Regions from separate parts of the Homo sapiens genome. Here region 2 is linked to region 1. The links come from fine-mapping of genetic effects on gene expression. A gene starts in region 1. The other region holds a variant in brackets. All regions are shown on one strand. Distances are between the middles of the regions.

Region 1 (9,849 bases):
CCAGCCGCCCCGTCCGGGAGGTGAGGGGCGCCTCTGCCCAGCCGCCCCTACTGGGAAGTGAGGAGCCCCTCTGCCTGGCCAGCCACCCCGTCCGGGAGGGAGGTGGGGGAGTCAGCCCCCCACCCGGCCTGCCGCCCCGTCCGGGAGGGAGGTGGGGGGGTCAGCCCCCCGCTCGGCCAGCCGCCCCGTCCGGGAGGGAGGTGGGGGGGTCAGCCCCCCACCCGGCCAGCCGCCCCGTCCGGGAGGGAGGTGGGGTCAGCCCCCCGCCCGGCCAGCCGCCCCGTCCGGGAGGTGAGGGGCGCCTCTGCCCGGCCGCCCCTACTGGGAAGTGAGGAGCCCCTCAGCCCGGCCAGCCGCCCCGTCCGGGAGGGAGGTGGGGGGGTCAGCCCCCCGCCCGGCCAGCCGCCCCGTCCGGGAGGGAGGTGGGGGGGTCAGCCCCTCGCCCGGCCAGCCGCCCCGTCCGGGAGGGAGGTGTGGGGGTCAGCCCCCCGCCCGGCCAGCCGCCCCGTCCGGGAGGGAGGTGGGGGGGTCAGCCCCACATCCGGGAGGGAGGTGGGGGGGGGTCAGCCCCCCGCCCGGCCATCCGCCCCGTCCAGGAGGGAGGTGGGAGGGTCAGCCCCCCGCCCGGCCAGCCGCCCGGTCCGGGAGGTGAGGGGCGCCTCTGCCCGGCCACCCCTACTAGGAAGTGAGGAGCCCCTCTGCCCAGCCACCACCCCGTCTGGGAGGTGTACCCAACAGCTCATTGAGAACGGGCCGGGATGACAATGGCGGTTTTGTGGAATAGAAAGGGGGGAAAGGTGGGGAAAAGATTGAAAAATCGGATGGTTGCCGTGTCTGTGTAGAAAGAAGTAGACACGGGAAACTTTTCATTTTGTTCTGTACTAAGATAAATTCTTCTGCCTTGGGATCCTGTTGATCGGTGACCTTACCCCCAACCCTGTGCTCTCTGAAACATGTGCTGTGTCCACTCAGGGTTAAATGGATTAAGGGCGGTGCAAGATGTGCTTTGTTAAACAGATGCTTGAAGGCAGCATGCTCGTTAAGAATCATCACCACTCCCTAATCTCAAGTACCCAGGGACACAAACACTGCGGAAGGCGGCAGGGTCCTCTGCCTAGGAAAACCAGAGACCTTTGTTCACTTGTTTATCTGCCAACCTTCCCTCCACTATTGTCCTATGACCCTGCCAAGTCCCCCTCTGCGAGAAACACCCAAGAATGATCAATAAAAGAAAAAAAAAAGAAAACAAATTCTAAGAGGTTATAAAAGGTTTATGGAAATTTTATCTTGTCTAGTCAAAGCTGATCAAGATTAGACAGATTTGTTTGTAAAGTTTATTAAAATCAGCTTTAGTATTAAAAGCACATTAATACATATATATTATATATAAAATATATTTTTTTAATTTTATTTATTTATTTATTTTGAGACAGAACTTTGCTCTTGTTGCCCAGGCTGGAGTGCAATGGCACGATCCTGGCTCACTGCAACCTCTGCCTCTCAGGTTCAAGTGATTCTCCTGCCTTAGCCTCCAGAGTAGCTGGGATTACAGGCACCCACCACCACACCCAGCTAATTTTTTGTATTTTTAGTAGAGACGGGGTTACACCATGTTGGCCAGGCTGGTCTCGAACTCCTGAGCTCAGGAAATCCACCCGCCTCAGCCTCCCAAAGTGCTGGGATTACAGATGTGAGCCACCATGCCTGGCCAAGTGTCTTATTTTCAAGGAGGATCATGGAAAGCATGGGAAGAATGCTGACAAATAAAGGTTTCTGATAACTTTGAAACTGTATCACCGGACTGGGTAAAAATTTCCAAAGTCTAATGAAAATAAAACTGGACTCATAAAATTGCTAACCTCCAGACTAATGTTTTCCATTTTTCACCCACTCTTCTGACTTAGAATCACTAAAAATTAAAACGGCCTTTTTTAGCTTGGCGCAGTGGCTCACACCTGTAAATCCCAGCTCCTTAGGAAGCCAAGTCAGGAGGATCCCTTGAGCTCAGGAGTTCAAGACCAGCCTGGGCAACATCAAGAGACCCCACCTTGAAAAAAAATTTTTAAAAATTAGCCAGGTGTGTAGTGCATGCCTTTGGTTCCAGCTACCTGGAAAGCTGAGGTGGCAGGATGGCTTTGCCCAGGAGGTTAAGACTACAGTGAGCCATGATCACATCACTGCACTCCAGCTTGGATGACAGAGCAAGACCTTGTCTCAAAAAAAAATCCAAAAAACTAAAAACCCTGCCTTTTTCCTAAGGCCTTACCAGCTAAAGCTAGTCAACGTGACTTTGAAAAAAAAATCACCACAAAAGCTTATATTTGGACAAACTTTACACACAACCTACAATCTAGGAAAATAGATTGCTATTAATCTTCCCAATTGACTGCCCTCCAGACTCTAAAGAAACTAGTTTATAGACTATACCAGATATTAAGCTTTGTTTGTCTTGTTCCATAGAAATGTCTCTCTTATTAAATACCTGTTTGCCTACATCATATACAGAGGCCTAGCTTTGAGAACTCATCTACAATGCCATCTTCTGAAATGAGACACAACAATTTAATTGAACTGGACTATCCCCCAAAATGAGAGGCTGGTTTAATGGGATCCTTTGCCGCTCAATTACTAGCCCGATTTCTCTCTCCACAGACACCAACTCAGCTTATAGTGAAACTTCTAAGGAAGTTTCAGACAAAGGAAATAAAGAAGACCAGGGACTCACACCCCAAAATATGGCATCCTGTATGCTAATCATTTTAAATTAAAGGTCCCTGGAAACCAGCAGATACTGGAAGCAGCTTTACTCTGATAACTACCTTATCTGCCTAAAGTCCAGACCTGTCAAAGAAGACAACAATTACTTCTGGTCTCTTCCCTGAGTTTTCATTAACTTACTTCAGTACAAGAAGAAAGATGGAAGCCTGTCAACACACCTGGACAGATTTTTGTCAGAAACCATTGTCTGCTCTGCAGGCCCAACAGTCATTGTCCCAGGCCACTGTATGTTCTCCAGGCCACTGAATCACCCTAAAAATCATTTACGATCCACCTTAAAATCACCCACATTTTCCCATCTCCCATATTCCTATGAAAGAGGGTATATAAGCATCTGTACCCCACTGGGTCATTCTCCTGCAATTCCCTCATGCTATGCACGTTAAAATAAAATTTCTATGCCTTTCTCCTATTAATGTGCCCTTTGTCGGTTGATTTTTCAACAAACCCTCAGAGAGCAAAGGGGAAGCTTTTCCTTGGCCCCTACATGCTATATGGCAGAAGGGAAAGTGCTTTAAGTTTATGTTCCGAGCAGTCCCTCCACCCATACCAAGGAAGCACAGCAAGGAGCTTGGGACACTTCCCAAAGAAATCCCAAAGATTTCTTTACAACGTATTTTTTACAATTCCTTTACAGTAGCCCCCAAATTTTATCCACTTTCGCATCTTCAGGATCAAGCAGAGTGCCTAGAGTGTACACTCTAGAAATGTTTATTGAATTAAGAAGCGGCTGACAGTGTTGTGCAGGTAGTGTGGCCAGAAGAGTAGTTTCAAGTCCCAGGCACTCATTAGTTGTATGACCTGGGGCAAGTCACCTAAATATACCGAGATCCATTTCTTCACCAATGAAACAGGAATATTACTACTTGCCTTGTCTACCTTACTGGCTCCTCAGGAGGCTTTACATAATGAGCGGCACTGTAAAACGTTATACACGTGTATGTACAGTTTTGATAGGGCTGTTAATTAGTCTCAATGGTGAAACAGAAAGAAACCTGGACTCAACAGTCAAAAGCTGTTGGGCCGTTGTGCATGGGCTACGACTAACATGTTCCGTTTTCCCATCTTAAACACAAAGTTTAGACTCGATGATGGTTCGGACCCTGCACTTAATAGTCTCTAAGTCCGCTACAGGCTCGGAACCTCAGGTGTCCTCAGAGAGGTAAACCCCAGGGTTCCCAGATACACCTGCAAGGGCAGGGACAGTCAAGGTCGCGGGGTACTAACACGCGGGAGGCTCACCCAGTCAAAGTCACACGGGTTACCGTCTTCGCGTTGGGTGGGCAGACCGTGGCAGAGCGGCGGCAGTTTCCTCACGAGTAGGAAGGCAGCAGAGAGCAGGGCCGACAGAAGGTAGTAAGGTTGGGCGAGCCATCGTGAAAGTCGCGGCACCGAATACACGAGAGCAATTAGAGGTGCCAAGACCGCCATCTTTTCGGCCGTAACGGCCACTGCTCGCCGGCGTCGTAGGTCTCGCCCCGCCTCCCCCACCATAACGACTGCTATTGGGCTATATCGCAAACGTACGGCCTCTAAACCCGGATGTAGTTCTCTGAACGCTGTGGTAGGTCAGAACCCAAAAAAGAACTTAATATTTTATTGGTTAGTCTAGTTGTCGCTTTATCCGCCTAAGTCATTTTATTGGACTGTAGCAAGCAGAGCTAGCAGAAGACTCTAATAAGGTTAAATAGCACTTCCTGAACGTTCTCATAAGGCGACGGAAGTAGTTGTTGAAAAAAGGTAGGCGGTGCCTGAGGCATCCAATGACAAGCGGCTCCTTGAGAAAGGGCGGGGGGGTACTCCTTGAAAGCATTGTCCAATGAAAATTACCAACGGCAGACACGGAGACAGCGCCGGGGCGGAGGGTACGATGGAGAATTTCACGGCACTGTTTGGGGCTCAGGCTGACCCACCACCGCCCCCAACCGCACTCGGCTTCGGACCAGGAAAGCCTCCACCCCCGCCACCGCCTCCTGCGGGCGGGGGACCCGGCACGGCCCCGCCTCCCACCGCGGCCACGGCTCCTCCTGGCGCGGACAAGTCAGGAGCTGGCTGTGGCCCTTTTTACCTCATGAGGGAACTGCCAGGTGAGTACTCGGCCTTGCCAAAGCCAGCCAATCAAATCTTAGAGAGGAGGTGATGGGCGTGGCTCTCAGCCGGCTAGCGGAGGTGCGAGGTAACCTAGGCAACGCATACCCGGACTGTGGAGCCCTAAGTCGGAAGCGCTGTTAGGATTCACAAGCAGAGGGATGACTTGAATTCAACCAGGATGAGTTGAATTCAACCAAAGGGATGAATGGCGGGCAGGGGCGTAGTGCATCTCCGTTACTGTCTTTTGCACCATGTCCAGGCTGTGTCCCTGACACTGGTTTATGTCTCTCTAAAAAATGACCTAGGGCTGGGCGCGGTGGCTCACGCCTGTAATCCCAACACTCTGGGAGGCGGAGGCGGGCGAATCACCTAAGGTCAGGAGTTCGAGACCGGCCTGGCCAACATGATGAAACCCTGTCTCCACAAAAAACACAAAAATTACCTGGGCGTGGTGGCGTATACCTTTAATTCCAGCTACTCGGGAGGCTGAGGCGGGAGAATCGTTTGAACCCCGGGAGGCGGAGGTTGCAGAGAGCCGACATTGCTCCACTGCACTCCAGCCTGGGCGAACGAGACTCCGTCTCAAAACAAACAAAATCCAGGGTTTGAGTTTGGAACTCGAGAGGCCTGATTTAATATCTTTGGGGACCCAAAGTTTTAGTTACAGGTCTCCCACAGACTTGCTATTGGTTTGGGGCAAGTTGCCATTCTTCCTTCTAAGGTTCCGGCATTTCCTGGTCTGATCAAAAAAGGGATAAGAATCGAACCAAACTCTTCATTCAAAAAATTATTTTGTTGAGTACCTATGTACCAAGCACTTTTCTAAATGCTGGAGACAGTTGTGAACAAGACTGACAAGATGCTTGCCTTTTTTGGGATGTACATTTCAGTGGAGGAGGCATTGTAAACAAGATAATGTCAGAAAGTGGTTAATGCTAGGAAAAGAAAACATGATAAAAATTGAAGGTGGCCAGGCGCGTTGCTCACGCCTGTAATCCCAGCGCTTTGGGAGGCCGAGGCAGAATCCCTTGAGCCCAGGAGTTTGAGACCAGCATGGGCAACATGGCGAGACCCAGTCTCTACAAAATATACAAGATTAACCGGGCGTGGTAATGCATGCCTGTAGCCCCAGCTACTCAGGAGGCTAAGGGAGGAGAATCGCTTGAACACAGGAGGTCGAGGCTGCAGTGAACCAAGATTGTGCCACTGCACTCCAGCCTGGGCAACAGATGAGACCCTGTCTCTTAAAAAAAAAAAATTGAGGGGCAGAACTACTTTAGCTAGAGTGGCCAGAGATGCTCTCTTCACATAGCTAACATTTGAACTAAAATGTAAGCATAGACAAAGGGCCAGCCATGTATGGACAGGAGGGAGAGACAATTGTAGATACAAGAAATGAGGTCAGAAACCCTGATGTGAGAAAAAGCTTAGAATATCTGAGGGACAGAAAATCAGTTGGACTCCAGTGAAGTGAACAAAAGGAAAGAGTGTTAGGGAGAGAGATGAAGCTGGGAGAGTTAGGCAGAGGCTTTTATAAAGCAGTAAAGGCATTTAGATTGTAAATACAAAAGGAAGCCATTTAAAAAATTTTTTTATAGACACAAGGTCTCACTGTGTCACCCAGGCTGGACTGCAGTGGTATAATCATAGCTCACTGTAACCTCCAGTTCCTAGGCTCATGCTGTCGTCCCACCTCAGCCTTCCAAGTAGCTAGGACTACAGGCATGCACCACCACAGTTGGCTAACTTAAAATTTTTTTGTAGAGACTGGGTCTTACTGTGTTGCGCAAGCTGGTCTTGAACTCCTGGCCAACAGCAGTCCTCCCGCCTTGGCCTCCCAAAGTGCTAGGATTATAGGTCTGAGCCACTGTGCCCAGCCAAGGAAAGCCATTTTAACATAGGAAGTTGGTCAAATGCACTTGTTTATAATCATTTAAGCAGCCACATGACAAATAGAAAGTGGGGAAATTAGTCAGAAGTTACTGCTCAGTAGTCCAGGAAAGATAATGGTTTGAACCAGAGCATAGCAGGGCATAGAGAAGTAAATGGATACAGGATGTTAGAGGTAGAGCTGACAGGGTTGAAAAATTGAATACAGGGCCAGGCGCTGTGGCTCACGCCAGTAATCCCAGCACTTTGGGAGGCTGAGGTGGGAGGATTGCTTGAGCCCAAAAGTTTGAGACCAGCCTGGGCAACATAATGAGACCCCATCTCTACAAAAAATAAAAATAAATTAGCTAGGGATAGCAGCATGCACCTGTAGTCTCAGCTACCTAGGAAGATGAGGTGGTAGAAATCACTTGAGCCCAGGAAGTTGAGGCTGCAGTGAGCCATGATTGTGCCACTGCACTCCAGCTTGGATGATAGAGGAAGACCCTGTCTCAATTAAAAATATATATTGTATATAGAAGTGAAGGAAATAGAGGAATTGATGCCTTTTTAAGTTTTCGGCTTGAATAATTGGGTGTATGGGTACGGAGACTTGGAAGATGAGGAAGGAACAAGTTTGAAGAGGTGGAAATCAAGAGTTATTTTGGACATGTTTGGTCTCCAAGATGCCTCTTTTTTTTTTTTTTTTAAACAGAGTTTTGCTCTTGTTGCCCAGGCTGGAGTGCAATGGCACAATCTCAGCTCACCACAACCTCCGCCTCCCAGGTTCAAGCGATTCTCCTGCCTCAGCCTCCCGAGTAGTTCGGATTACAGGCATGTGCCACCACACCCAGCTAATTTTTTATTTTTAGTGGAGACAGGGTTTCTCCCTGTTGGTCAGGCAGATCTCAAACTCCCAACCTCAGGTGATCCGCCCACCTTGGCCTCCCAGAGTGCCAGGATTACAGGCGTGAGCCACTGCGCCCAGCCTCCCAGATGCCTTTCATTGTCTCAAGTCTTATTTCCACATCATGACTTGAGGGAAATAGCAACAAATATTGGTATAGTACTTTGAAGTTCACAACACACTTACATGCAGTATTTAATATAAGTAGTATTTAATACTTAGAATAGCCCTTTGAGGTAGCATTACTGTCTACATTTTATAATTGAAAAAACTGAAACATGGAGAAGTTGACATCCCTTTGATTAGTTAGTGGTTGATGTCCACCAGCGGTTTCTTTTAATCTTTCTTTTGCCTTCCCTATTCTGATTGTAGCTATTTGTATCAGTCAGTTGACAGATATTGAATATATGTTCTGGGCAAATGCTGGGTGTATGAGGCGGGTGAGATGGAGAGAGAGATTAGTAATGCTGGTCATTGCTTTTCAAGGAGTTTAGTTAGGAATGTAAAATTTGTGGTTTAAGGATAGTGACTATATTTCCTGTCACCTCCATCTCATTTTGTGCTCATGCCTCACAACAGCAATTAACAATATCTTAGCCATCAATATTAAGAACTACCTAATGGTTTTCAAAGTGTGTTGCTATCCAGAATGACAGTGAGAATAAGATGTCACTTGAGCTAGACCTTGAATAATCCATATTGGTGAAGAAAAATTAGGAAGAATTTTCCTAAGATGAAATAATGTGAGGGGTGTTTTTTTGAGGCGATAAGGAGATCCATTTGGATGGATCAGAAATTTTGCATAGGAGAGTAGTGGTTGATGAGGCCCCAAAGCTAAGTTGGAGTAAGATGTAATTAGCCTTGAGTGCCAGTCAAAGGAATTTGAGCTTTCTCCTGAGGGCAAAAAGAAACCATTAAGATTTGTGAACTGAGGAGTACTGATTTCCAAAAATATCTGGAACATGTGGGTGCCATGGATTGAAATAGAGAAGCCCTGAGTGATGTTGGCAAGATTTGGAATTTCAAAACAATTTTTTTTTTTTTTATCTTGTTGGGCAGGGTGGTTCACGCCTGTAATCCTAGCACTTTGGGAGGCTGAGGCAGGCAGATAGCTTGAGTCCAGGAGTTCAAGACCAGCCTGGGCAACATAGGGAGACCCCTGTCTCTACAAAAAATACAAAAATTAGCCTAGCATGGCAGTGTATGCATGTAGTCCCAGCTACCTGGGAGGCTGAGGCAGGAAAGTAGTTTGAGCCCAGGATGCAGAGATTGCAGTGAGCTAAGATTGTGCCATTACACTCCAGCCTGGGTGACAGAGCGAGACTGTCTCAAAAAATAAATAAATATAAAAAGTAATCTTTGTAGAATAGTCAAAACTGGAATTTGAACTCTCAAGTTACAGTTTAGAAAAAGCACAGACTGCCTTCTCACCTGAGCCTTAAGGATAACCATCTGGACAGAGGAGAGTTGGCAGAGCAGGGGAAATTCAGAAGATTGTAATGGCAAGAGGCAGTGCCCAGAGTTATGAGGAGAGATACTGTGACATTGGGTCTCCTGCCATTACCCTCGCTCAGTCTTCTGAGTTGTTTGGTAGTAAAGGGAAGGAAAAGGATGAATAAGGCCTAGAGGTATAGAGGGAAAGTGCCTTGTTTATTTAATAAATATTTATTAAGCACCTAATGTGTGTACTGTGCTGGGCACTAGCGATACATGAATGAACAAGACATTGTCTGTGCCTCCAAGGAGCTTACAGTTCAGTACCTCAGTTTTCCCAAGTGAATGATTATAAACAAGCCATTTTTGTCATTTGTACCCTCTGTGTCTATCATAATTACAAATGAAGTTGTAGTTAGCTATTTCTACCCTTGCTAGTAGGTCCTTATTAAGTTACTAATAAATGTATATTTTTTAAAAAAGAATCAGCCATGCAATATTTATATGGATAGTGCCTTGCATACATATAATACTTTTTTTTTTTTTTTTTTGAGATGGAATCTGACTCTCCCACCCAGGCTGGAGTGCAGTGGTGCAAACTCAGCTCACTGCAACTTCCACCTCCCGGGTTCAAGCAGTTCTTCTGCCTCAGCCTCCCAAGTAGCTGTGACTACAGGCGCATGCCACCACACCCAGCTAATTTTTGTATTTTTAGTAGAGATGGGGTTTCACCATATTGGCCAGGCTGGTCTCAAACTCCTGACCTCAGG
Region 2 (9,849 bases), 160 kb before region 1:
ATATAATCATTGAAGTACAGTAATATCTCTTCTACCAGACTGTAACCTCCTTGATAATAAAAACCATGATAGTCAAAGGACCTAGGGCAGCTCCTTGCACATGGTAGGCATTTAATTAATATCTATCACATTAATTAATGCATAAAATACCTGCATATAAGCATGAATAAGCAAACAGTAGGTATATGTAGGTAGGATTTGAACATGTGCTACAGAGAGGATATTCAAGGTAAGGTAAGAGAAAGTTTGTTTATTTATTTATTATTTATGTAGGCAGAGTCTCACTGTTGCCCAGGCTGGACTATGGAGGGCAGTGGTGCGATCTCAGCTCACTGCAGCTTCCGCCTCCTGGGTTCAAGCGATTCTCATGCTTCAGCCTCCTGAGTAGCAGGGATTACAGGCATGCACCACCACCCCCGGCTAATTTTTGTATTTTTAGTAAAGACAGGGTTTCTCCATATTGGCCAGGTAGGTCTTGAACTCCTGGTCTCAAGTGATCCACCTGCCTCAGCCTCCCAAAGTGCTGGGATTACAGGTGTGAGTCACCACGCCCAGTCAGATAAGAGGAAGTTTTTGTTTTTCCTTCACAGTGACAGCAGTTTACATGTAGACACCAAATTCATCCAGGGCACATTTTTCTGAGCCTCACCTGGTATCAGTAGATTAAGTAACCATGCTTGTCTTTCTTACCAATCTAAGCCCACTGTTACAGACTCAACAAAAATGTCCACCCTTTCTCTCTTGACTGCATCAAACTATAGAGGCTTGATAAGCCAATTGCTCTTTCCCAGGCCCTTTGTGGCTAGAAGTGATCATATGATATACATCTGGCCAATGAGCTTTAGGAGAAATCAGCCAGCTGGTTCTTGGCTTCTGCAGAAGACATTTCCTGACAAGACCACTGCAAAACTTCTTGTAAACAAAGAATAAATATTCTTACAGCTTAAGTCACCTTGCTTGAGTTTTCTGTCACTTGTAGCTGGACAAATGTAATAGACCCATCTAACAAATATTCCATTAATTCAGCAAGTTATTCTTTTAAGCTCCTACTAAAACCTAAGCCCTATTCTCTTCTCACCTTACACAAAGTTTGCCATCCTCGCACATACTCTATTCTTTTTTCTCTCTTTATCTATTGGGAAATATTGGTCCTTCCTCTCCTCTACTTTACATTTTGTGGGTCCATGAGAAAACACCTGCTTAATTAATTCATTCTATTCCAAAATAGAGAAGGAAGGCAATTAGACTTAACCCATGCTTTACAAACTGACATGCCTCTCAGGTGAATCTTTACAACCACACTTTGTGGTATTTTACGCTCATTTTGCAAACAGAAACCTTAGGCTAATTGTAACCGAGGTAAATGTGATGAAGCCAGATTGTCTTTACCTGTTTAATTGCAAAAGCCATGCTCTTTCGGCCTCCTTGGGCTCTCTCCCACCTACTCTCACTTCCATATAAATTGGCTTCTTTGGGCTTATGCTGTTTAAACAATCAACAAAGTCCACACATTCACCTCCATTTCTATGTCTGTATTTGTCCTTCACAGTCAGCACTTGGTTATCAGCATCCATGGGAAGACAGCAGTTGCACAGATACCCCAAACATAACTCAGTCTCAGAAACCCACAAGGTAATGTGTTTTGACAGCAGATTTTCCTTCTAAGTGCTTGTGGAGGCTAACACTAAGAAAAACTGGAGCTTTCTAAATACTCATCCAACGATGGCAAAGTAAAAAAGCCCAGGCTGAGAAAGGCAGCCACCTGGTAGGGTTAGAAATGACAGCAGGTGGGTGCCGGGCGCAGTGGCTCACACTTGTAATCCTAGCATTTTCGGAGGCCGAGGTGGGAGGATCACCTGAGGTCAGGAGTTCAAGCCAGCCTGGCCAACATGGTGAAACCCCATCTCTACTAAAAATACAAAAATTAGCCAGGCATTTTGGAGCATGCTTGTAATCCCAGTGACTCGGGAGGCTGAGGCAGGAGAATCGCTTGAATCCAGGAGGCGGAGGTTGCAGCAAGCTGAGATCATGCCACTGCACTCCAGCCTGGGCAACAGAGTAAGACTGTCCCAAAAAAAAAAAAAAAAGAAATGACAGTAGGTGGGGTAGTAGGCCCCATGTAGACAGTGGGAAGTTAGCTACACAATTGTATGTTCAGACTCTGAACTCAGAAATTAATACAGATCAAAAGAAAAGCCATGCTCTTTTGACTTTTTCTAAGGAAACGAGGGAGAAGAGGAGGAAGAAACTAGCAGCAGCTACAATTTACTGAGTATCTGCAATGTGTTCCTGTTCTCTCACAAGTAGTCTATCATTTAACTCTTACAGCAAGCCTGGAAGTCAGGAACCATCACATCCTCTCTTTTTAACATAGAGTTTATCATTTTAACCATTCAAATATACAATTTACAATCTAAGTATATTGCATACAATATAGATTGTACATATACAATTTAAGTGCATTCACAATATTGTGCAAGCATCAACACTGTCCCTTTTCAGAATCTTTCATCATCTCAGACAGAAACTCTGTACCTATTAACAACTTCCCATTCCCTCCCTTCTTCCCCCAGCCCCTAGTCTACTTTCTGTATCTATGAATTTGCCTATTCTAGTTATCTTGTATTTGTCTGTTCTTGCACTGCTATGAAGAAATACATGAGACTGGGTAATTTATAAAGAAAAGAGGTTTAATTTGCTTACAGTTCTGAAGACTGTACAGGTAGCATGGCTGAGAAGCCCTCAGGAAACTTTCAATCATGGCAGAAGGTGAAGGGGAAGCAGGGATGTCTTACATAGCTGGAGCAGGAAGAAGAGAGGTGCCACGCACTTTTTTTTTTTTTTTTTTTTGAAATGGAGTCTCATTCTGTCACCCAGAGTGCAGTGGCACTATCTCAGCTCACTGCAACATCTGCCTCCTGGGTGCAAGCGATTCTCATGCTTCAGCCTCCCGAGTAGCTGGGATTACAGGCGGGCACCACCACACCCAGCTAATGTTTGTATTTTTAGTAGAGACAGGGTTTCACCATGCTGGCCAGGCTGGCCTCGAACTCCTGACCTCAGGTGATCCACCTGCCTCAGCCTCCCAAAGTACTGGGATTACAGGTGTTAGCCACTGCGCCCAGCCAGATGCCACACACTTTTAAACAACCAGATATCATGAGAACTCACTCACTATCACAAGAACAGCAAGGCAGAAGTCCTCCCCCATGATCCAATCACCTCCCACTACGCCCCTCCTCCAACACTGGGGATTACAACTGGACATGAGATTTGAGTGGAACACAATTCCAAACCATATCATTGTATAAGTGAGATCATGCAACAGTTGTCCTTTTGAGTCTGGTTTACTTCATTTAACATAAAGTGACGGTTCACACACGTTGTATGTAACCAGATACATACTATATACAGTGGAACACTCTATGGTAAAATTATAGTTAAAATGAATGATGAACTATAACTATGTTATTAGCATTGGCTGGGCATGGTGGCTCATGCCAGCAATCCCAGCACTTTGGGAGGCCAAGGTGAGAGGATTGCTTGAGGCCAGGAGTTTAAGACCATCCTGGGCAACAAAGAGACACCCCATCTCTATTTTTTTTAATAACTATATTAACATCCTGAAGAGTTCTTCAAAATATTATGTTGAGAGCAAAACAGCAAATGGCAAACTAATATGTAAACTCTGGGATTAAATCATAGTTCTTCCACTTTCTAACTGTATATAACTGTGGAATTTACTTCTCTGTGTCTGTTTTCCATCTGTAAAATAAGAATAATAATTGGACCTAATGTTGGTGTCGAGGGACTAAATGGACTTAATATGTACCTTTGCCTTAAAAGAGTGCTGGCACCAATAAATGCTCATGATTATTATTATTACTTATAGATTCACATCAGTAGTAAAATATAGACTTGCTAAAAAAAATTATTCTAAACGTGGAAATAATGGGAAAAGGTGTGGGATGTCCTTTCAATATCATATGGGGACATTATTTAATAGATTTAATAGGTCCACCAAGGGTAATTCAGGAGAATATACTTGATTTGACTCACTGCTTCCTATTGACTAAAAGTCTCAAATTTAGTGAAATTACATGTTAACTTACACATTCTTGTTCAGTAGAGATGCAAATAATTTCTGTCTTATAGAAAAGATAGCCCCAAAGTTTACAGTTTATTGCATATAGGACAAGAACCACTTGAATATCCAATCCAATATCTTATTGTTTTAATTTTTTTGAAAATTATGCTTTCCTGCACTGAAGGATACAAGCCAAATTTATGATAATGGTTGTCTCTCTAGCAAGGGAGAGGCATAGGACTCGGGTAGAATACATAGGGATTTCAATGACCTGTAGTGTGTTATCTGATTAAATATTTATGTAAGGCTGGGCATGGTGACTCATGCCTGTAATCCCAGCACTTTGAGAGGCTGAGGCGGGAGGATCACTTGAGGTCAGGAGTTTGAGACCAGCCTAGACAACATGGTGAAACTCTGTCTCTACTAAAAATACAAAAATTAGCTGGGCATAGTGGCACATGCCTGTAATCCCAGCTACTCGGGAGGTTGAGGCATGAGAATCACTTGAACCTGGGAAGTGGAGATTGCAGTAAGCCAAGGTCACACCACTGCACTCCAGCCTGGGCAACATAGTGTGACTCTGTCTCAAAAAAAAAAAAACACCTTGTAAACTGGGCACAGTGGCTCACGCCTATAATCCCAGCACTTTGGGAAACTGAGGTGGATGGATCACCTGAGGTCAGGAGTTCGAGACCAGCCTAGCCAATATGGTGAAACTCCCTCTCTACTAAAAATACAAATATTAGCCAGGCATGGTAGTGGGCATCTGTGATCCCAGCTACTCAGGAGGCTGAGGCAGGAGAATCGCTTGAACCTGAGAGGCGGAGCTCGCAGTGGGCCAAGATCGCCCCACTGCACTCTGCTTGGGTGATAAAGTGAGACTCCATCTCAAATAAATAAATATGTATGTAGGCCAGGCATGGTGGCATGTGCCTGAAGTCCCAGCTATTCAAGACGGTGAGGAGGCAGGAGGATCGCTTGAGCCCAGGAGTTTGAGGCCAGTCTGGGCAACAGAATGAGACCCC[A/CA]TCTCTGAAAAAATTTTTTAATACAAATAAAAAATAAACATATTTGAAACGTATAACAAAAATATTCATGTTTATTAAGTCAAGTGGTAGACACATCTAAATCTTTGTGTTTTCAATTAAAAAAAAATTACCCAAAAAAATCAAAGTAACAAAGTACTGAAGCTTCTTGTTAGGGCAAGACAAAAAGCTCTGTGCATTCATTTATGCCAAATTATTGACCAGGCACTCTTTGACAGGATGATGGGACCACATAAAGATTTGTAGACTGGAATCCAAGAGACACGGGTTACAATTTTGAGTCTAGAACTAATTAGTTGTATGACCCTGGGTAAGTCACTTCTCATTGAACACCAGCTTTATTTCCTGTTAAGATGAGTGCTGAGCTGGGCATGGTGGCTCACGTCTATAATTCCAGCAGCACTGAAAAATTATGTGCATACCACTCCACTTATGAATTTTCTTTCTTTCTTTTTTTTTTTAGTCAGGGTCTCCCTATGTCACCCAGACTAGAGTGCAGTGGCACAATCTCAGCTCACTGCAACCTCCACCTCCTGGGTTCAAGAGATTCTCTCACCTCAGACTCCCAAGTAGCTGGGTCTACAGGTGTGCACCACCAAACCCGGTTAATTTTTTTGTGTTTTTAGTAGAGATGGTGTTTCGCCATGTTGGCCAGACTGGTCTCGAACTCCTGGCCTCCAGTGATCTGCCCGCCTTGGTCTCCCAAAGTGCTGGGATTACAGGCTTGAGCCAGTGAGCCCAGCCTCACTTAGGAATTTTCTTTAACCCAGTTCCAAACTGAAAAAAAACTTCAGTATAAGGAATTGCAACAAAGTTTTAATTTTTCTATGATGCTTCGATGTTTTTAAAAATTACCATTAAAAGGTTCAAATATATACCAAAGCAGACAGTATAATAAACTGACTTCCATGTACCTATCACTCAGCCTCAACATTTATCATTTTATAATCAGTTCTTGCTTTATCTTTCCACTCTTCCCAGCCAGATTATTTTAAAGCAAATTCCAACGTTCTATCCTTTCCTGGTGCTTTTTAAAAAAATGTCCAAATGAGTCTTTTTTTTTTTTTTTTTTTTTTTTTTGATGCGTCTACTTTGCTGGTGCCCCAAGCATGTTCTTGGTCTTCCCATGTTCGGGACTCCAATCCTGCCTCAGGCACTGCTGTACCGTCACATCTCAGCTGAGAGCCCGCCGGACTGGATACTGTGTAATTCCCTTTAGCTGGAACAATCCATTATTCACAGAACCACAACCACCAGCACTCCAGTAGCCTCAGCTGAGCTCCTCGAGACGCAGTCTCAGGACAGCGGAGTCAGCTGACACAAGCGTAAGGAGGAACCCACCCTCCCACCACAAAGCGCTGTCAGAGAGGGAGGAAAGGAGGAGAGAAGCAACAACTGGGAGATGATCAGTCTGTGTGTTCGCTCCTGGTAACAAATCCCTTGGCTCCTCCTTATGCCCATCAGCATTTCCTGTGCTTAGAAGTTAGCTTCATTTCTGGAAATATCATCTTTTTATTTTTTTATTTTTTGTCTTGTTTTTCCCTTGGATTTTGAGATGGAGTTTCGCTCTTGTTGCCCAGGCTGGAGTGCAACGGCGCGATCTCGGCTCACCGCAACCTGTGCCTCCTGGGTGAAAATGATTCTCCTGCCTCAGCCTCCCGAGTAGCTGAGATTACAGGCATGGGCCACCACACCCAGCTAATTTTGTATTTTCAGTAGAGACGGGGTTTCTCCGTGTTGGTCAGGCTGGTCTCGAGCTCCTGACCTCAGGTGATCTGCCCGCCTCAGCATCTCAAAGTGCTGGGACCACAGAAGTGAGCCACTGCACCCAGCAGCATTTTTTTTTAAATATCATATTTTTTAATTGCTAATATAAACTACCCATTCCATTAACAAGGCCCCTAGTGCCTCCTCCGATGAGTCCCCAGTGGGTGAAGCCTAGAGAGCTTCCTGGAAGGGCCCCAGAGTCCCTGCCCTAGTGTGCTCCCAGCTCCCCTCAGTGCTCCGTCACTGCTGGGACCCAGCCTTGAGCAACAGTGACGGAAGTTTATGACGCAAAAAGGGACTTAGCTCTAGCCCTGGCCCTAACCCTAGACCACTCTCAGCTCCTTACCAACCTCTGAACTTAGTGTCCCCGATTTGTTTGATCAGTATTGAGGCCCACAACAGACCCTCAATGTTCAGCAAAGAAGGCCCCTTGGGTCATTTAGTCAAAAACCTCATAGACTGTCCCCCAGGTTCCTGTAAGCTCCCAAGGGACAAGATGACTTTTCCTCGTTCAGACTTCAGAATCCAAGGAGGAGGCAGGACGTCTCCTACCGGCTCGTGCTAAGACTTTCTACTGCCAAGAACGGAGTGACAATGGCTAGGCATCATGGCTCAAGCCTGTAATCCCAGCACTTTGGGAGAATGAGGCAGGGGAATAGCTTGAGCCCAGGAGTTCGAAACCAGCCTGGGGGGCAACATAGGGAAATCCTACCTTAAAAAAAACTAGAACGACAAACTCCATCTCCTCAAGGAGATCCTAACCCCCCTATCCCCGCTGTGCCTCAAGAACAAAACAAATGCCTGAAATCTAGAGGGAGAGATAATCTCTTCTTCCCTGAGGCCTGAACCTCCCAGGTAGGGAGGTGGTGTGTTTCAAGGACCTTCCAGAGCTCTAAGCCTCCAGAGCCACCAGAGATCAAGAGGAGATGAAGCCAGCTTTATAAGCTCTGGGCAGGACCAAGATGCAACCGTAGCTTCAGTCCTGAATGCCACATCCTGTTTGCCTGAGCTGTGTGTCTTATCAAGTCTGAATGTGTGGCTACCCCAGGAACAGCTTTAGAGAGGAGAAATTGAAGATACAGGCTGGAGTGGAAGGGAGTCCCAGAACTACCCCTACGTGGCTGGCCTGGGAGGATCTTGAGTCCCCCCAGCCATCTTGAGGTATATCGGGCTGGGGAGCACCATCTGCTAAGGTTGGTATTTTTCTATTGCAGATTTTACTGCGTTCCACCAGAGCTGATTCAGAAGGCTGAGGTTGCCTGTTCTCTTCCCCTTCCCTTCAAAATCCACACCCACACCATCCCTTACTCTGTCAGCCTTTAAGCATTTCCTGAGATCCCATGGTATTCAACGGTCTTGAGCAATGTTTTCCAGCTCCCCATTCATCAGGTACGCATAATCTAACTTGGTGGAAGTTAATGTACATCAGGTACCTACCTTGTTTCCAGAAGTGTGCTGAGTACAACATTGACACGCATTGTCTTTCAATCCTCACAGAAACTGAGGCTCAGAGAGGTTAAGTAACTCTGCCAAGTTTCCTGACCCCTTCCAATGCACCTTTTGCCCGGTAAATGTTTACTGAGGTTAATTCCCAGTTCCAGGTGATCGCACTTCCCCATCTCCTCCAACTAGCAACACCTTTCTCATTCCTCAAGGCTCAGCCCCGTGCCTCCTGGTCCTGAAGTCTCCCCAGAGCACCCCAAGCTGCAATCACCCTTCCCTCAATGGGTTCCTGCTGGCAGTGGGCTCCACCCAACTTCACTCGTTTTCATGGAAGCAAGTGTGTCTCTTAACAAAATTTTAAGATCTTAAGTGGCCACAGCCGTGTCTTATGCTATTGTTTAAATACTTTGAACAACTATGATGGTTTAAATACTTTGAACAACCATAATTGTTTAAACCCTTTTGAACGACTGCAATTGTTCAAATATTTTCAGATTATAGTAGTTGTTCAAATAGTCACTGACAGCTTCTTATATAGCTTAAAACAGCCTCTGCTCTCAGAAGTTATGTGATAGGGAAGCAAAGCAACACCATGCAGGAGGGAAGAAAGACTTAGAAACATTGACAGACCCTGTTACACAATTCTAAATATGTGTGTGAGTAAAAATCAACTGCCAGATGACAACAGCACACAAAACAAGGACTCACTGGGGAAAGGGAAGTCTTACTAGAAGGACTGAGGGATGGCATTGCGGGATTATAGAGGAAGCCGGAAGGGATGATAGAGGAGACCTGGAGGGATGATAGAGGAGACCTGGAGGGATGCTAGAGGAGACCTGGAGGGATGCTAGAGGAGACCTGGAGGGATGCTAGAGGAGACCTGGAGGGATGCTTGAGGAGACCTGGAGGGATGATAGAGGAAACCTGGAAATACTCTGCACTTGGGAACCTCAAAGTACACCTGGAAGGCTGTTGCCGAGGTCACAACAATTGAGAATTATTAATAGGTGTGTCTCTGAAGGAATCAAATGGCCATATGGAAGTTGAGATGGGAGCAGTGGAGGATTAGGAGGGAATGCAGTACTGGGCCGTGGGAAGATGGTGGAAGAGAGGGATTGGGAAGGTAAACAAGAAACATTATTTGCTGGATTCCAGGAATTCAGCCTAAATATATGGCTGGGCATGGTGGCTCATGCCTGTTATCCCAACACTTTGGGAGGCCAAGGTGGGCAGACCACCTGAGGTCAGGAGTTCAAGACCAGACTGACCAACATGGTGAAACCCTGTCTCTACTAAAAATACAAAAATTAGCCAGGCATAGTGGCACGTGCCTGTAATTCCAGCTACTCAGGAGGCTGAGGCAGGAGAATTGCTTGAAGCCGGGAGGCAGAGGTTGCAGTGAGCCGAGATCATGCTGCTGCACTCCAGTCTGGGTGACAGAGCGAGACTGTCTCAAAAAAAAAATTGTTTTAAATAATAATAATGCTGAGTATGACTTTGTGAATGTGC

The links. PIP is the estimated chance that this variant, and not a neighbour inherited with it, causes the effect.
Region 2: its variant is the best candidate, but not a certain one, in a credible set for the expression of MED19 in breast (GTEx, PIP 0.72).

What each region holds. Positions count from the first base shown.
Region 1 is chr11:57,706,979-57,716,827 of GRCh38, reverse strand. It overlaps MED19 (mediator complex subunit 19), which reads left to right and starts at 4,613. Exons shown (of 5, transcript NM_001317078.4): 1 at 4,613-4,865. The coding sequence starts at 4,649. TMX2 (thioredoxin related transmembrane protein 2) reads right to left here and starts at 4,235. Exons shown (of 8, transcript NM_015959.4): 1 at 4,021-4,235. The coding sequence starts at 4,209. TMX2-CTNND1 (TMX2-CTNND1 readthrough (NMD candidate)) reads right to left here and starts at 4,305. Exons shown (of 21, transcript NR_037646.1): 1 at 4,021-4,305. RefSeq lists an enhancer at 765-1,275 and a silencer at 4,643-4,982.
Region 2 is chr11:57,871,749-57,881,597 of GRCh38, reverse strand. No RefSeq gene overlaps it. Among named protein-coding and RNA genes, the nearest start is that of CTNND1, 110 kb to the right of the region's middle. The variant A/CA (reference allele first, on the strand shown) is at 5,113.